Linked DNA regions of Homo sapiens: region 1 is linked to region 2. The links come from fine-mapping of genetic effects on plasma protein levels. A gene starts in region 2. The other region holds a variant in brackets. All regions are shown on one strand. Distances are from middle to middle.

Region 1 (8,000 bases), 35 kb after region 2:
ATTTGTACCTAGAGAAACCTCTTTTGCTTCCTCAAATCCCACTTCTCTGGCTCATTAATAATGTGGCAGTTGTAAAGGTGGGTGGATTTTATATTTAAAAGTGGCTGTGGAGTTCATGTTCTAGATGGCTGACTTTACCAAGTTGAGCTAATTAAATTTTGTGTAAGTGTTCCTGATTTTGTGAGATCTGCTCCCAAAGTGGGATTTTAAGTAGCCAGTCTATCTACATGAGACAAGTGTGTTTACCCCTCCCCAACCCCACCTGGTTGTGATTAGCCAGATTTAAAACATAATGGAGCAGGTGTGAATGGCTGTCATAGAAGAGCCCTTATGAGGCCCGTGCTCTGTGGCCCGTGACAAAGATGCAGCAAGGGGCATGTGTTCCAGGCTCGGGGCCTGTGAAGGGATCTGGCTGCCTGGCTTTCGGTCTGGTGCTTAGGAGGGCTGATTGGGCCCATCTGGCTACTTGGGGATCCCCTTCCTTCCTCACCATTCCGAGTTTGGCCTGAAAAACATCAAGTTGGCTGCATATATTTTGAACTCCTGCAAAGACCATCTGGTCTTTTTGATTCAATTGTCAACATTTTTTTAATCAGGCAATCTGTATTAAGCCCTTGTAGTTCTGTGCCTTAATGACATCATGGCAGCTCCCCCACATGGCACAGCAGGGACCTCTCTGGACCATAGAGACCCTTCACATGCCCCTTCCTCTCTTAAGCCCTTAGCTCTGTCTGGAGTACCTTGATGGCTGGCCCATTTTTTAAGGTCAACCCAGATTTCTCCCACGTGATACAGCCTCTAGCGGACCATGCGGATGTGTTTCCTCATTTCTTTGGACTTTTACCTTCTGTGCTCCCTTAGAGCTTTGTAATTTCTCCAGCCATCCATTCAGCCACCGATCCAACAAAAGGCTTATTGATGCCTGATATATACCAGACTTGGGGCATGTCAGTGAACTAAATAACAAAGATATCCCCCTTCCCTCTTGGGGCTTACACTCTAGCTGGGGGAGATAGTATACATAAACAGTACATGTAATAAGTCCATCAGTTCTGTAGTATTTCAGAAGGGGATAAATGGAATGGAACGGCAAAGAGGAAAAGCAGAGCTGGGCTGGGTGGATCAGAAGGGCAAAGCAGGAGGCAGTGGCACGATGCTTCAGGAATGAAGCAGGCAGGCCTGGGAGACACTGAAGCTGGCCTGGGCTCGTAGGAATTTGTGTGCGCGCCTTTGCCTTCCTCCCCAGCCAAAAGGACAGGGCCTGGGCCTCCTCACTGATTTTCTGCTTGCAGCATTTAGCACAAAATGCTTTGCATGTAGTTGGTGTTCTGTAAATAATTGGGGAAATGGAAATGAGTGTGTAAAAATGAATTTGAAGACAAATAAACCATTTCCTAATTTTTACTTTTTTTCTGCCCTTTTAAAAACCTGTATGATAAATCTGTGCTTAAGAAGCTGAGATTCTTTTCCTATTTACTCATTGTTTTCAAGACAAAAGTTGCCACTGGCACTCAGTGCGGACAGGGGTTTTGGAAAGTGTTGGTCAATGCCTGGACTACTTTTTGACATAGAGTGCAATGTTAAGATGTAAACGTCAATTCCATTTAGAAGAGCACAGAGGAGCAGAGTTTGATTACTGCTCTGGCCAGCTTCGTGCTCTACAAGAATCATTTTTTTTTTAAATAAATAACTTTTGGGAACTGCATAGAGGGAAAATCTTGAGTATATTTTATTGTCAGTTTGCCATGAAAAATTCAAGAGTCTCTTGAAAACCTCTGGATATAATTAGTTTTCAGTTTGCAAATATTTATCAAGTAAAATGACATTATCCCAGTGCAGAGCAACACCTTAACATGAATTGTGCAGACCCAAAGTCACCTGACCAGTGAGTGTGTGTGTCACACGGGTTTCAGCTCTTACCTGAGGTTTAGCGATTATGGGAAATCAATACAGAATAGCTTTGTGGGCTGCATTCAGTCGATATAGCTGGGTCTTGAGTTAAAAAAAGAAAGATCTAAGGCTGCTGTTGCTTTCAGCTGCCCCGTTTAAAATGTAAATGATTCCTGCAGCTGATAAAATTCTCCCTTGAGAGCTCCAGAGCACTGTGTAACTTAGAGACTTGAATTCAATACAGCGTCCACCACACAAAGGGTGTGTCATAGGCTCGTAGAATGTCAGAGTCAGGAGGCCCCCATGGGGAAGCTAGTTGCAGGTTCCTCTGCCGTGGGTCACAACGTGGGGAGGGGAAAGGGAAGCACAGGAGGGCGAGACTCTGAGGGTTACCCACATCCTGGTCCCGGGCCTCTTCCTCCCTTTGCCTGGACATACTTTGACTGATTTTATTGTGCTTATGATTCTGTGTAAGAGTTCGTGTGAAGAAGGTGTTCTGAGGTTAAAAATACTTGGGAAGAAATAGTTTGACTCAAATTAGCTCCCCCATTTTCCAGGTAAAGCCACTGCAGCCTGGAGAAGGTAAGATGCACCACTAAGTTGTGTGTTCTGCAGTTCTGACAGCAGCTGGAGATGCACCTCCATGGGACTGTTTCCTTCTGTGTCCACCTCACTGTCTTAGTGTGAGGATCAAATGGGACAGGCAGGAAATCCCACAGTGTAATGCAGTAGTTAAATGCAAATGTTATTATCCTTTTCTGTTTTCTACCACTAGAGCAACCATGTAGGTTATCAAACTGTGTTTCAGGAAACCCAAAGGGTCCTTGCAGGGGGACTCAGGGTTCTGCTTTCTTTAGGCAAAGATCTTCCCTTTTACCTGCTTTCTATCTTAGGCTTCTAGGTGAAGTTTCTTTTGAAGGTAGGGCTCGTAAATAGCTGTGTTCAATATTGGTGAATGCTGGCAGCCGCCTGTGCCTGTTGAAATGGGCAGGCTTAGGATGTTCAGGATGATGATTGGCTGAATACCTGGTTCAAGATGATTGCCCTATTACGTGAGCACCAGGAATAGATTGGCATAAGCCACACAGTCTGAAACTCACCATGGAGACTTTTGAGCTGCATTGTGAAGACTTAAAAATCAGGGTATTCCCAAGGCCTTTTATTTTTTGGCTCTGTTTGTAACTAATATGATGGTTCAGTATAAGTACCCAGGCAGAAATGAGGTGGTACCTGACAGGTGATGGCGCTTTCTTTCCTGTGTTTGTTTTTCAGTGCACTTACATTTCAATCGACCAAGTTCCAAGGACCTATGCCATAATGATAAGCAGACCCGCCTGGCTCTGGGGAGCAGAAATGGGAGCCAATGAACATGGAGTGTGCATAGCCAATGAAGCCATCAACACCAGAGAGCCAGCTGCCGAGATAGAAGCCTTGCTGGGGATGGATCTGGTCAGGTACTGCATGGTGATTCTTTGAAACAACTTCCTAGAAAAGGTTGGAAATGGGGACAGGATTTATTTCTCCCTAAACCTTGCATTTTTTAACATAATCCTTCCAAAGATGATGTGTGCCTTTTGATAGAAACTTTAAGATGATGAGATAAATGAGTGGATTACAATGGAATATTACTTAACAATAAAAAAAAATCAAGTGGCTGGGCATGGTGGCTCATGCCTGTAATCCCAGCACTTTGGGAGGCCGAGGCAGGTGGATCACCTGAGGTCAGGAGTTCGAGACCAGCCTGGCCAACATGGTGAAACCCCGTCTCTACGAAAAATACAAAAATTAGCCGAACGTGGTGCTAGGCGCCTATAATCCCAGCTACTCAGGAGGCTGAGACAGGAGAATTGCTGGAACCTGGAAGACGGAGGTTGCAGTGAGCCGAGATCATGTCATTGCACTCCAGCTGAGGCGACAACAACGAGTCTCCATCAAAAACAAATGAACAAAGAATCAAGTATAGATACATACTAAAGCATAATGATCTTGAAAACATTATACTGAGAGAGAAGCCAGACACAAAAGGTCACATATTGTGATTCTATTTATATGAAATATACAGAATAGGCAAATCCATAGAGGCAGGAAGTTAGATTAGTGGTTGCCTGGGGTTTGGGTGTGGGTGAGAGAATGGGGAGTGATTCCTAATGGGCATGAGCTTTCTTTTGCGGGTGTTGAAAATGTTCTAAACCTTAGATTGTGGTGATGGCTGCACAACTTTGTGAGTACACTAAAAACCACTGAACTGTA[C/T]AGTTTAAATGGGTGGATTTTATAGTACTTGAAATATATAATATATATATAAAAATATGAAAAATCATAAACTAGAAAAGAAAAATAGAACAGAGATCACTTCCCTCCTTTCCTCTCTATGTCTCAGTTATTTTTTCTTCCTTTTTCCCCTCTCCCAGCCACTACACAGCAGAAGGAACCTGCTGTGCGAGCTGGATAGGGCAGGGATCTTTGTCTGTACACTGCTGTGTCATAAGCACTGGGAACTGTGTGCCTGGCCTGTAATGAGTGATCAATAACTGAATTTTGAATGAATGACTAAAGTAGAAGGTAGGCTGGAACAAAGCAACATTCTGAAATGCCTTTTTTTGTCCCTGAAATAGTGAAATGAAATAAAATCATGACATAGTTGAAAGAAGATTGGGCTGGGAGCTGGAGTTCTTGGCTTTCAGTGTGGATGTACCAAGTTACATCACCTCTCTGGGCCACAGTTTCCTCATTTTTTCAATATGAGGTCTAGATTGGATGACTTCCGAAGAACTCCCAAAGCTAACATCCTAGAAAAAGGAATGGGGTTGGATTTTGGTTTTGTAGGGGGAAATGGCACATTTAGACAGTGGTCTCGGGAACTCACTCCTCTGCCACCTGATGGAGAGGTCTGCGAGGGACACCCTTTTGGTAGCACAGTGACTTCCTGCCTTCCTTACCTTTCCTTACTGTTCCTCATTCTTATAAACTCAGGAGGAGCAGCTTCCCTGAGCTGGGGAAAAGGCAGAAAAAGCCAGTTTTTAAAAACCAGTTATATATAGCTAGTTTTCTCTTGATTAGCAAAATGAAATGTATAGAATAACAAGAAGTTTTTTTTTTTTTAGCTTATGTTTTGACAGCTCTCCAGTATTTTTTACTGTATTTGCAGTATGAGACTTATAGAACAGGCAAAATTACCATTTTAACAGTTGATTTCTAAGGGACAGTGGAAGAGGATTTTTTGCCTTTCTTCAGAGCACCTGATATATCTTTTTAAGATTATCAACCAATAAAGCAACAGGAGTTTACTGAATATCTACTTTGTTCTAGACTCTGTGGGTACATGAAGCAGCTCAAAGCTTCAAAGGGATTTTAGTCTGGTTGCAGGAAGAAGAAAATTGAGCAATGGAAATTTTAAGAATAATATAAGAAGATAGTAGGAGAGAGGTAACTCAAAGTGATCTGAGATTTGATGCCACGTGAATGGCACAGAATTCCAGGGTGTGGCCTTCAGCAAACACTGCGGGATGTTCACAGATTATCACAGACTGGTCATATTTGGGAATGCTTTGAGGGGCAGGTTCATTTGACCTGAAGCTGCAAGGCTGAGGGAGGTAGACACAGAAGATATGTTTGTCACAGACTTGGCATTGTGATAATTAGCAAGGTCAGGAGTAGATGACAGGGTGAGAGTTTAACCTTCACCATATAACGTTAACTCCATCTTGGGCTAGCCATGTCCAGCTATTGTAATAAAAAGGGTGTGAAGAGCACTGGTAGGTTCTTCAGGGTGGGGATGGAGTCACAGGCATCTGCACCTTAAGTGGATCTTTTGAGTTCATCTTTAAAGCAGCTATGATCAGTTCAGCCAAGCATAGCCAGATTTTGAAGGGTCATTTCATACCAACCAAATCCTAAAAGTAACTCATGCTCATTACCCAGCATTCTCTCTCTCTCTCTCTTTTTTTTTTTTAGACAAGTCTTGCTCTGTTTCCTAGGAGTGCAGTGGTATGATCTCGGCTGATTGCAACCTCCGCCTCCCAGGTTCAAGCGATTCTCCTGCCTCAGCCTCCTGAGTAGATGGGATTACAGGTGTATGCCACCACACCCAGCTAATTTTTGTATTTTTAGTAGGGACGGGGTTTCACCATGTTGACCAGGCTGGTCTCGAACTTCTGACCTCAAGTGATCCGCCTGCCTCAGCCTCTCAGAGTGCTGGGATTACAGGCGTGGACCACCACATCCCACCCCAGATTTCCTTTTTAATGATTTAATTCTAGTATTAATTTTTAAGAAGCTCCAGATGATATTGATACTACAAGTCAAAAAACCACAGTTTGAGTGGCAAGTTCTAGAGTAGTGGTTCTCAAAGTATGGCTGGTGAACAAGCATCACCTGGGAACTTGCTAGAAATGTAAATTGTCGGTCCCTATTTCACACCCAGGGGCCAGCAACCTGTTTTAACAAGTTCTCCAGCTGGTGCTGATGCACGGTTACGGTGAGAACCGCTGCTCCACAGGAAACTTTCTATCAGTTGGTTTCATTCTCTTAATTTGGGGCTCAGTGCCTCCCTAGGTATTGCTGTGTGAGGAACCACTACTTTCTCTGGCCTTGCTTGCACTCTGTGTCTAGTGCCAGTTCCTCCCTGGACAGCTTCTATGAGAGCAGGCTATGTCCATTTCACATGCTCTTTCAAGGGCCTGCTAGACTGTGGTTGATTATTCAATGAATACAGTAGTTGCCCCTATACTTATCCTGGTACTTTGCACTTTCCAGCAGCATGTGAAATCCAACCTCAGTTCAAAGAGACATAAGGGAATGACAGTAGCAATGTAATAGGCACTGATTTTAAGATAAAGGTATAATTTGTGTATGTTTCCTAGAGGCTTGTGGGAATGTAAGCATTAGGCAATATTGTTTTTATAATGCGTTTTCAGTGACATTTATCTCAAAGCTAAGCTTCATCTGTTATTTTTGATTCACTGTTCTCTGACCACTAGTCCCTTTCTCCTGAGGAAGAGGCATATAAAGACACGTACACATTTTTGCATGTTTCATGAAGTTGGTTCCAAGTAATGAGTAGCCAATAGAAGCTAACATAAAAGTGGGAATTTGGCCAGGTGCAGTGGCTCATGCCTGTAATCCCAGTGTCACACGATCCTTACGGTGTTGCTTTTCCAGCCGGAAACCTCTGTGGCTGGTGGCACCTTTGCCTGAGTTTTGGTCGGGCTGCTGGGCTTGTTCCACCACTTGGCCCTGCACACTGTACTCAGCTTATGCTACTGGCCTGGATCCCATGCCTTCCAAGCACAAGCCAGGCGCAGAGAGGAAAGGGGTGTGTGAGCAAGCATGGGGTCCAGCCACTGCACACAGCCAGGTGTGCCAGCTGTGGCGGGATGGGCAGCTCTAGGCGTTGGCACAGGCACTAGCTCTGTGCGAGGCTGCAGCTGGACCAGGCGTACTGCAAATGGCTTCCACTGCAGTCACCAAGAAACGTGGTGCCTGGAAGCTTGGAAATGCCAGGAACTGCAGAGCCCCAAAGAGAGTGTCACAGTCCTGGCTCAGGGAGCCCCTAGGTCTGGACTCCCCAAAGGGCTGCAGCTCTTCTCTCCTTTTCATCACCTGCAATTTTGCAAATGGTGGGGGCTGGGGGTGTGCTTCAGCACTGTTTGTGTTATAGCTCTTTCAGTCCCACCATTTGGCGGGTCCCAAGCTCTTGTCCCATGTTCAGGAAGAGTGAGATACATGGACAGCTGGAGAGTGAGCAAGGTGGTGAGGAGCTTCATTGAGTGACAGAACAGCTCTCAGGGGACCCAAAGTGGGTAGCTCCATTCTGCAGGCAGGTCATCCTGACGAGTATCCAGCTCTCAGCAGAGAGGAGACCTGTAGTGGGTAGCTCCCTTCTGCTGCAGGCAGGTCATCCCAACGAGTCAAGGAGGCCCAAACTTGGTAGCTCCTTCCTGCAGCTGGTAGTCCTAACGTCTGTGTGAGTCTGACTGAGTCTGGGGTTTTTATGGGCTCAGAAGGGAGGAAGTGTGTGCTGATCGGGTCATGGGCAAGCCTGGAAAAAGCACCATAAGTTCTCACTCTGGGCTGCGTACTCCACCCGGAACTAGCAGACCAGCCTCCGGGCT
Region 2 (8,501 bases):
TAGTCACATAAATAAACTTGGAATTTTACCTCCACTTATTCAAAAATTTACTTGAAATGGACCATGGTCTTAACATAAGTGCTAAAAAACTATACATCTCTGGATGTAAACATAGAAGAAAATCTTTGCAACCTTGGAGTAGGCAAAATTTCTTAGGACATAAAAAGTATTAACTATAAAAGAAAAAATATTGATAAATTGAGCATAACAAAATTAAAATCTTCTCTTCAAAAGACACCACTAATGAAAAGCGAGACATATACTGAAAGAATATATTTGTAATACATAAATATGATAAAGAACTTGTATCCAGATATAAGGAATTCTTAACATGTAATAATAATACTAATTAAAAATATAAAACTTTTTAACAGGCAAAAGACTTAAACACTTTCCAAAAGAACATATATGAATGGCTAACAAGTATAGGAAAAGTTGCTCACCATTATTAATCAGCAAAGAAATATAGGCTGGACATGGTAGTTCATGCCTATAATCCCAGCACTTTGGGAGGCTGAGGCGGGTGGCTCATGAGGTCAAGAGATCAAGATCATCCTGGCCAACATGGTAAAACCCCATCTCTACTAAAGATAGAAAAATTAGCTAGGCATGGTGGTGTGCAGCTGTAGTCTCAGCTACTCAGGAGAATGAGGCAGGAGAATTGCTTGAACCTGGGAGGTAGAAGTTGCAGTGAGCCGAGATCGTACCACTGCACTCCAGCCTGGAGACAGAGTGAGATGCTGTCTCAAAAAAAAAAAAAAAAAGGCAATATAAATTAAAACCACGAGGAGATTTCAGTACACATTTGTGAGAATCGATAAAATTTAGAAGATTGATAATAGCAAGTGTTGATAAGGATGTGGAGCAACTGGAACTCTCATATATTTCTGATATAATGTAAAATGGTAAAAACCACTTTGGAATACAGTTTGGCAACTTTTTATAAATTTAAATATACACCTGCCGTATGACTCACCCACTTCACTCTTAAGTATTAGGTTGGTTGGTGCAAAAGTGATTGCAGTTTTTGCCATTTTTAAAACAGTAATGGCAAAAACTGCAATTACTTTTGCACCAATCTAATGTTTACCCAAGAGAAATGAAAACCTACACTTACATAAAACTTGTAGATAAATATTATTAGCAGCTTTATTCATAATTGTTCCAAACTGAAAACACTATTAGTATCTGTGGTCATCACTGAGTGTACCCTCCAGACATGTTTAGCAGACAGCCTCTAGCTATAATCTCCTTCTGCCTCAGCTGCAGAGAGTAACCTCTGTAGGGATCATGTCCTTCTCAGGGCGGAAGAGAAAAAAGGAAATCTGTTATACTTGTATTTTTTAGCTCTTAAGTCTCTGAATATGACTAGATGGAATATAAATGACCGTGTAACAGTTGCAAGTCATTTAAGACATTTTTTTTCCTTGCAAGCTAGCTCATGGAAATCTTATAATTTACTCAAAGTTAAACCTCACATAATTGATAGAGGCCAATGATTAAAGCCCTTACTGATATTTCTTGGTGTTCTCCACATTTGTTGGACAGTTCTGTTCTCTTATCTCTATTTATGCAGCTCAAATAATAGTAGGGACTGTCTTTTGGATACAAAGCAGAGACAAAATAAGTGTATTGCTGCTGGTTTTTGTTTTTTAAGACGGAGTCTCACTCTCTCACCCAGGCTGGAGTGCAATGGCACGATCTTGGCTCACTGCAACCTCTGACTCCCTGGTTCAAGCTATTCTCCTGCCTCAGCCTCCCAAGTAGCTGGGATTATAGGCACGCACCACCACACACAGCTAATTTTTGTATTTTCAGTAGAGACGGGGTTTCACCATGTTGGCCAGGATGGTCTTGATCTTCTGACCTCGTGATCCACCCGCCTTGGTCTCCCAAAGTGCTGGGATTACAGGCATGAGCCACCATGCCCGGTCATTGCTGCTGTTTAATAAGCGTTCATAGTGCCATATAATAAGCTTCTCCATGCAGACCCTGGGGAAAGCAGGTGTCTTTCAATCTCCATGTGTTCCTGGGCTCCTGGCCTCAAAGCTCCTGTGGCTGTGTAGGGACAAACCAACAGGCTTCAAAGATCTCAGGCCAGGCAGGCAGGTTGGCAGTATCCCCTATCCGTGTACTGAGCATATGGCTGCCTCCAGGGGAGCAGCGTAGGGTGCAAGTGCCATCCTTTACACAACAAATGACATATACTGGCTATAGGAAGGCACAGGATTGCATTTGCCTTTCTAGTAGTGGTGTAGTCTTAAACTAGACATTTAAAACAGTGACTCTGGCTGGGCACGGTGGCTCACGTCTGTAATCTTAACACTTCAGATGGCTAAGGCAGGAGGATCATTTGAGTCCAGGAGCTTGAAACCAGCCTGGGCAACATAGTGAGACTCCATTTCTACAAAAATATTTTAAAAAGTAGCTAGGCATGGTGGCACATGCTTGTAGTCCTATCTACTCAGGAGGCTGAGGTAGGAGGATCACTTGAGCCTAGGAGGTAGAGGCTGCAGTGAGCCACTTCCCTCGAGGCTGGGTGACAGAGCGAGATCCCATCTCAAAACAAACAAAAAATAAAACAGCGACTCTGAGACTTTTAAAAAAAGTTTAATATTTATTTTAAGTTCTGGGGTATATATGCAGGATGTGCAGATTTGTTATATAAGTAAACGTGTACCACGGTGGTTTGCTGCACCTATCAACCCATCACTTAGGTATTAAGCCCAGCATGCATTACCTATTTTTCCTAATGCTCTCCCTACCCACACCTCACGGACTTTCAGACTTTAACATGCAAGAGAAACAACTAAAGAGCTTGAAAAATGCGGGTTCCCTGGCTCCAGCCCCAGAGACTCTGAATTCCATAGATCTGGGCTGGAACCCAGGAATAAGCCCGCTAGAAATTTCTAATATTGATTATTTAGACTCATTGGCTACAGTTTTCTTGGCTAGACTAAAAGAACAGTAAAGTACCTTTGTGCTCCAAGAGTCTACGAACCAATGCTCTATTCTGCAGTACCTACACCAACTTCCTCAGCCCTTCCCCACTATCCGTTTACTCATGTGTCAGACTGTAAGCACAGGCTCAACATTCAAAGGGCATGGAAAAAAGTCTCCTTCTCTCCCCAGCACCCAGTCTCCCAGTTCTGCTCCCTGGTGGCATCTATTACAGGTTCTTACGTACTCTTCCAAAGATACTCTGTGCATTTACAAAAATAAGTACAGACATACATATATATTTTCTTCCCACAAATAACACACACAACGTTCTGCACCTAGCTTTTTATTTTTCTTTAGTTAGTATAGGTTGGAAATAGTTTTGTATTAGCAAATAAAGATCATTCTCCTTTTTAAAGGAAGCTGGATAGTAGAGGCAGGCGGATTGCCTAAGCTCAGGAGTTTGAGACCGGCCTGGGCAACATGGTGAAACCCCATCTCTACTAAAAATCAAAAAAAATTAGCGAGGCTGGTGGCGTGGGTCTGTAGTCTCAGCCACTTGGGAGGCTGAGGCACGAGAATCGCTTGAACCCGGGAGGCGGGAGGCGGGAGGCGGGAGGCAGGAGGCGGAGTTTGCAGTGAGCCGAGATCCTGCCACTGCATTCCAGACTGGGCGACAAAGCAAGACTCAAAATGTTTTGATTTTTGTTAATCTGGCTGGTGGAAGATGCTACCCCACATATTTGATTTGCAGTTAAGTGAGCCTGAATATCTTTTCGTGTGCCAGGATAGAATTGCATTTATTTTCCTCTGAATTACGTCTTCATATCTTTTGAGATAGTCTTTTCTTATTTACTTATAAAAGATGGAGTTGACGCTGGCATCAACACACACACACACACACACACACAGACACACAACACACAAGTCCCTGTACATAACTTTATTAACCCAGATATGGAATCTTGGCTTAGTTACGTGCTGTGTGACCTTGGGCAAGTTACTTAACCTCTCTAGGCCACAATGTCCAAGTACCTGGGACAGGGTCTGGCTTACCAACATGGTACAGGACGGCACTTTTAAAACCAGGGACTCGACTTGGACGTGCGAGTCAACAAGGTACAGGACACATTTCTCTCCGGGGAAATCTTGTGTGGGCGCCGAGGCCCGGACGTAGCAACCAAACGTCGGGAAGAGGCGCCAAAAGGATGCTGGGCCTGGCTCCTTGAAGCCCGGGTTTTCCCTTTTGAGAGCCACAACCAAGAAATAAAAATCTAGCAAAGAGGGGGCCACTTTCTGCGGCGAGATACGCCCTCTCGGCCGCTCCTCCAGCTCCCAGGCCCCCTCCCTACTCGACGGTGAGCAGCGCCGCGGCCCGTGCAGCCAGACGCGCGGGGTGCGGCGGGGCCCCGGGGGCCGGGGTGGGGGAGGCGGAGGGTGGGCCCGCGGTCACGTGAGTCGGGCCAGCTGCTGCGGGGGGCGGCGGGCCCCAGCGCCGGGAGTCTGGGTAGGGGGAAGCGCCCGGCGGCCGCCTCCGCCACTGCAGCTGCAGCCCCCGAGGTCGCCGCAGTAATCCGGACCCGGCAGCACCCGCACCCTCGGCGGCCGCAGCCTCAGCACCGCAGAGCGGAGAGCGGAGCCCGGAGCCCGCCGCCCCAGGTGAGCCGCGTCTGGGAGCGCAGGGCGTTTGCAGCGCTGCTTTCCCGGCGGTTTCACCCCACCCGCCATCGCCACCTCCTGCGTTTCATCTCCTCCCGCTGTCCCTCCGAACCCGCGGGTAGCGTTACCCCAGGCCGATTCCCGGTGCTGGCCCGGGCGGGCTGGGAGCCTGGGGGCGGTCAGAGGAGAGGTGGCCTCGGCCTGAAGCCGGGGTGACTCGGCTCGGGGACTGCGGGGGTGCAGTGGAGGGATGCCGGCCCCGGGCTCCCGCACCGCAGCCGGGTTCCCCGCGCTGCTCTTCCTGGGTTTCCTTTTCCTGGCAGCCAACCTGCTGCCCACTGGGATGTGCCTGTGGGCCCCTGGCCTCGCCACCCTGGGGTCTGGGGCGAGCCGGGCACCTTCCCCGAGGTGCCGTACCTGCTGCGCGGGCGGGCGCCGCGAACATGGCTGCCCGGAGACGCCCGCCGCCTTCGGCCCGGCTCTGCCAGCGCGTCCAACTCGCCCGCGGCCGCCGCACCGTGTCCCGGAGCAGCCCTCCCCGCTAGGCCGACGCGCGCGGGCCGCCCCTGGGTTCTCCGCGGGCCGCGCGTGGGACTTGACACAACTTCCCTCGAGCCGCACCCGGGCGTTCTCCGCGGGGCGCCGGGCGGGGCTGCCGAGAGGCCGGCTTGGTCGGCCTCTGCCTCCTCGGCTCGCTCTTGAGGCGTCGAGTATTTGGCGACCTCACTCGCGAGGGCCGAGAGAAATGTGGTCTGCAAAGCAGGAGGGGCGCTTGAACTTTAGAGAATTGGCGAGAACTCGGATTTGGGAATAAAAATGTCCATGAAAACATCGAAGGAAACTGTTACCTGCTTTGACTCAAAGCTGACCTTGTAGGGTTCTGTTAAATAACGTGGCTTTTCTGGATTTTCTGTCTGATTCTAGCATGCAAGTCCTTGACTTACGCTTGCGTCCGGCAGCCGGGTGGGGTGGGTGCGTGCGTGTGTGTGTGCGCGTGTGCGCGTGTTGTGTTCCCAGCCTGGTTAGAAGATGCATCAGTTGCGGAGGAAACCTATGCTAATTCAAAATGGCAGCATGAAAAATAGGCCAGGCGGAAGCAGCACAGACCACAACCATCAGCTGCCCCCTGACTTAAGCCTCAGGGAGGGAATTAGTGTGAGTCAAGGCTCATCCGGGTATGGAGTAGAGAGTGATTCTTGGAGCTGGCTAGATTTTAGGGTGCTGCAGGGTCCTGGGAGTTGTTAAGTGGGAAGTTTGGAGAGCTGTAATTATTTTTCCTAACTTATCAAAAGATGATACAAAACCTAGTTAAAACTCTACGGTTTTGTATGATTTTCTCCAGGCTCAACTAAAGTTGACTCTGTGGCTGCTGATGTCTTTTTGATGCACAACCTGGAGGTCGTTTGATACCTACAAGCTCTTAAAAGAGATGTGTGCACATTGTAAACATCATCCAAGAGCAGTGCACATAACAAATACCAGGTTCTTAGATCAAGTTTCATTGGAAGAACTGATTTAGCGACACGAGGAAGCACCCAGGCATGAGGAAATGGGAAATTCTTGAAAGGTGACTCATTTTAGAATTTTTTTTTTTTAAACAGCCTTTCTTTCCCTTTTCACTTCCGTGCTGCCAGCCATCTTGTCTTTTGGGAAGGAGATACATGAGGAGGCAAATGCTTCAGGGATAATGGAATAGAGGAGGATGAGCTAAGGTCGGGGGGCAGAGGTGGAGGCAGTCTTAAGGAGCCTGCTGTCAACCCCCTTTTTACAGCAGGAAGGCTGAGGCCAGCGGGGCGAATGGACGCCAAGATCATATATCTGGCTGTCAACTGGCAGTGAGAACCCAAATCCAGGTCTCATAACTCCCCCGGGTTCCACATGCTACCTTTTAGAGCCTGGGGGAGAACAGCAAGTCTGTCATTATTAGGAAGGCAAACACTTCGAGCAATGGGAAGCCAAACTGTAATATGAATTACAAAGTCTATAGGTGTTTAAAGTCAATGACAACACCTTAATTTCCTAATTCAAGACTTTTAACTTCTTAAGCTGTATCTACCTCATGTTCACATTTTCCAGTGGTGAAACTGTTTCTATAGTTAAGAACCAAAAACATTATTTTAGTAAAGTCTTTGAGGCAAGAAGTACATTTTTTGATTAAAAATTGAGTTGCTTGTGTTTGTGGAGAACCATTAGGCCAGTTTATTTTGAAAAGGAACCAAAGTAGGCCATGCATTTCATTTTTTTCGACTGTTTCTAATTTTAAGTAAAAGTAAATAACAAGCCTATTGTAAACATAACTTTGAAGCAGTGAAGACAGGCTTTTCCTATGATTTGCATTTGACTTTTCTGAGTCATGAGTCAGTGACCTTAGATCTACTAAAGCAGAGCTAGAAATTGTGCATGGGTTAGTGTGAAGAGGTGGTGAAGATGTGGAAAACGTTTCTTCTGGGCATCTGAACCTTCACAGCCAGTGATGTGCAGAGGGAGAAGGTGGCAGGAGGCAGGGAACAGGGAGAATGTCTTGAGGCAGTGGAACAGATAGGAGCTAAATATGAATATATATATCGAAGTGAAGACAGATGCTGATGTGACATGTGCCATTTAGAAAACTAACTTGCAGCCGGGCGCGGTGGCTCACGCCTGTAATCCCAGCACTTTGGGAGGCCGAGGCGGGCGGATCACGAGGTCAGGAGATCGAGACCATCCTGGCTAACACGGTGAAACCCCGTCTCTACTAAAAATACAAAAAATTAGCCGGGCATGGTGGCACGCGCCTGTAGTCCCAGCTACTTGGGAGGCTGAGGCAGGAGAATCGCTTGAACCCGGGAGGCGGAGGTTGCAGTGAGGCGAGATGGTGCCACTGCACTCCAGCCTGGGCGACAGAGCGAGACTCCGTCTCAAAAAAAAAAAAAAAAAAAAAAAAATTAAAAAAATTAGAAAACTAACTTGCATTAGAGGATGAATGTGAAGATATGCCAAAGATATTTAAAATAGCAAGTTGTAAAAATACAGAAATGCATGCAATTTGTGTCTGTTGAAGAATAAGAATACAGATAAACAAAAGTTATTTTTTTTTAAATCCGTTTTCATTAGAGTCTAGATCTGTGCTGTTTCATCTGGTAGCCACCAGCCTCATGTGGCTATTGAGCACTTGAAATGCAGCTAGTTTGTATTGAGATATGCTGAGTGTAAAATATACACACAATTTCAAAAATTTAATATGAAGAAAGAATTTAAAATATCATTAATAATTTTATATTGATTTTATATTGAAGTAACATGTTGGATATATTGGGTAAAATATATTACTAAAAATAATTCCATGAGTTTCTCTTTACTTTTAAAAATGTGGCTACTAGAAAATATAAAATTGCAAATATGGTTCGCATCTGTCTTGCTCTCTCTCGAGACAGGGCCTCCCTCCGTCACCCAGGCTAGAGTGCAGTGGCACGATCTCGGCTCACTGCAACCTCTGCCTCCAGGGTTCAAGCGATTCTCCTGCCTCAACCTCCTGAGTAGCTGGGATTACAGGCGTGCGCCACCACAGCCCGGCTAACTTTTGTATTTTTAGTAGAGACAGGGTTTCACCATATTGGTCGGGCTGGTCTCGAACTCCTGACCTCAGGTGATCTGCCCGCCTCGGCCTCCCAAAGTGCTGGGATTACAGGCATGAGCCACCTCGCCCAGCCCTTGGATTATATTTCTAGTGGTTTTTAACAGGAACTGGAGGGTGGCTGAGCTCATAATGCTGTTTGTAGAACTGGGTATGTAAGGAGAAGTTAAAACAGAAACTGAAAAGGGGACAGGATGGACGGAAAAGGGACTACAAGAAGTGAGTGACCAGGGAAACTGTAAAGGGAGAGAAGGAGTATGTGGTGGGCTGGGACTGCTGAGTATGAGAC

Alleles and levels. Alleles are on the strand shown, and positions count from the first base shown. The strength of an association depends on the size of the effect and on how common the allele is.
For the plasma level of the protein whose gene starts at base 4,440 in region 2, allele C in region 1 goes with a higher level than allele T (weak association).

What was found. PIP is the posterior inclusion probability: the model's chance that the variant is causal. Protein levels are from antibody-based Olink assays in UK Biobank. Linkage for the fine-mapping came from a reference panel and not from the study's own genotypes, which makes the PIPs less certain.
Region 1: its variant is fine-mapped to the plasma level of the SCRN1 protein (UK Biobank, PIP 0.99).

What each region holds. Positions count from the first base shown.
Region 1 is chr7:29,950,523-29,958,522 of GRCh38, reverse strand. SCRN1 (secernin 1) reads left to right here. Exons shown (of 8, transcript NM_014766.5): 3 at 3,163-3,344. Among named protein-coding and RNA genes, the nearest start is that of FKBP14-AS1, 34 kb to the left of the region's middle. The variant C/T (reference allele first, on the strand shown) is at 4,141.
Region 2 is chr7:29,985,740-29,994,240 of GRCh38, reverse strand. SCRN1 (secernin 1) reads left to right here and starts at 4,440. Exons shown (of 8, transcript NM_014766.5): 1 at 4,440-4,599. It overlaps FKBP14-AS1 (FKBP14 antisense RNA 1), which reads right to left and starts at 5,585. Exons shown (of 3, transcript NR_187577.1): 1 at 5,448-5,585. RefSeq lists silencers at 4,314-4,653, 4,674-4,723, 4,734-5,003, 5,094-5,213.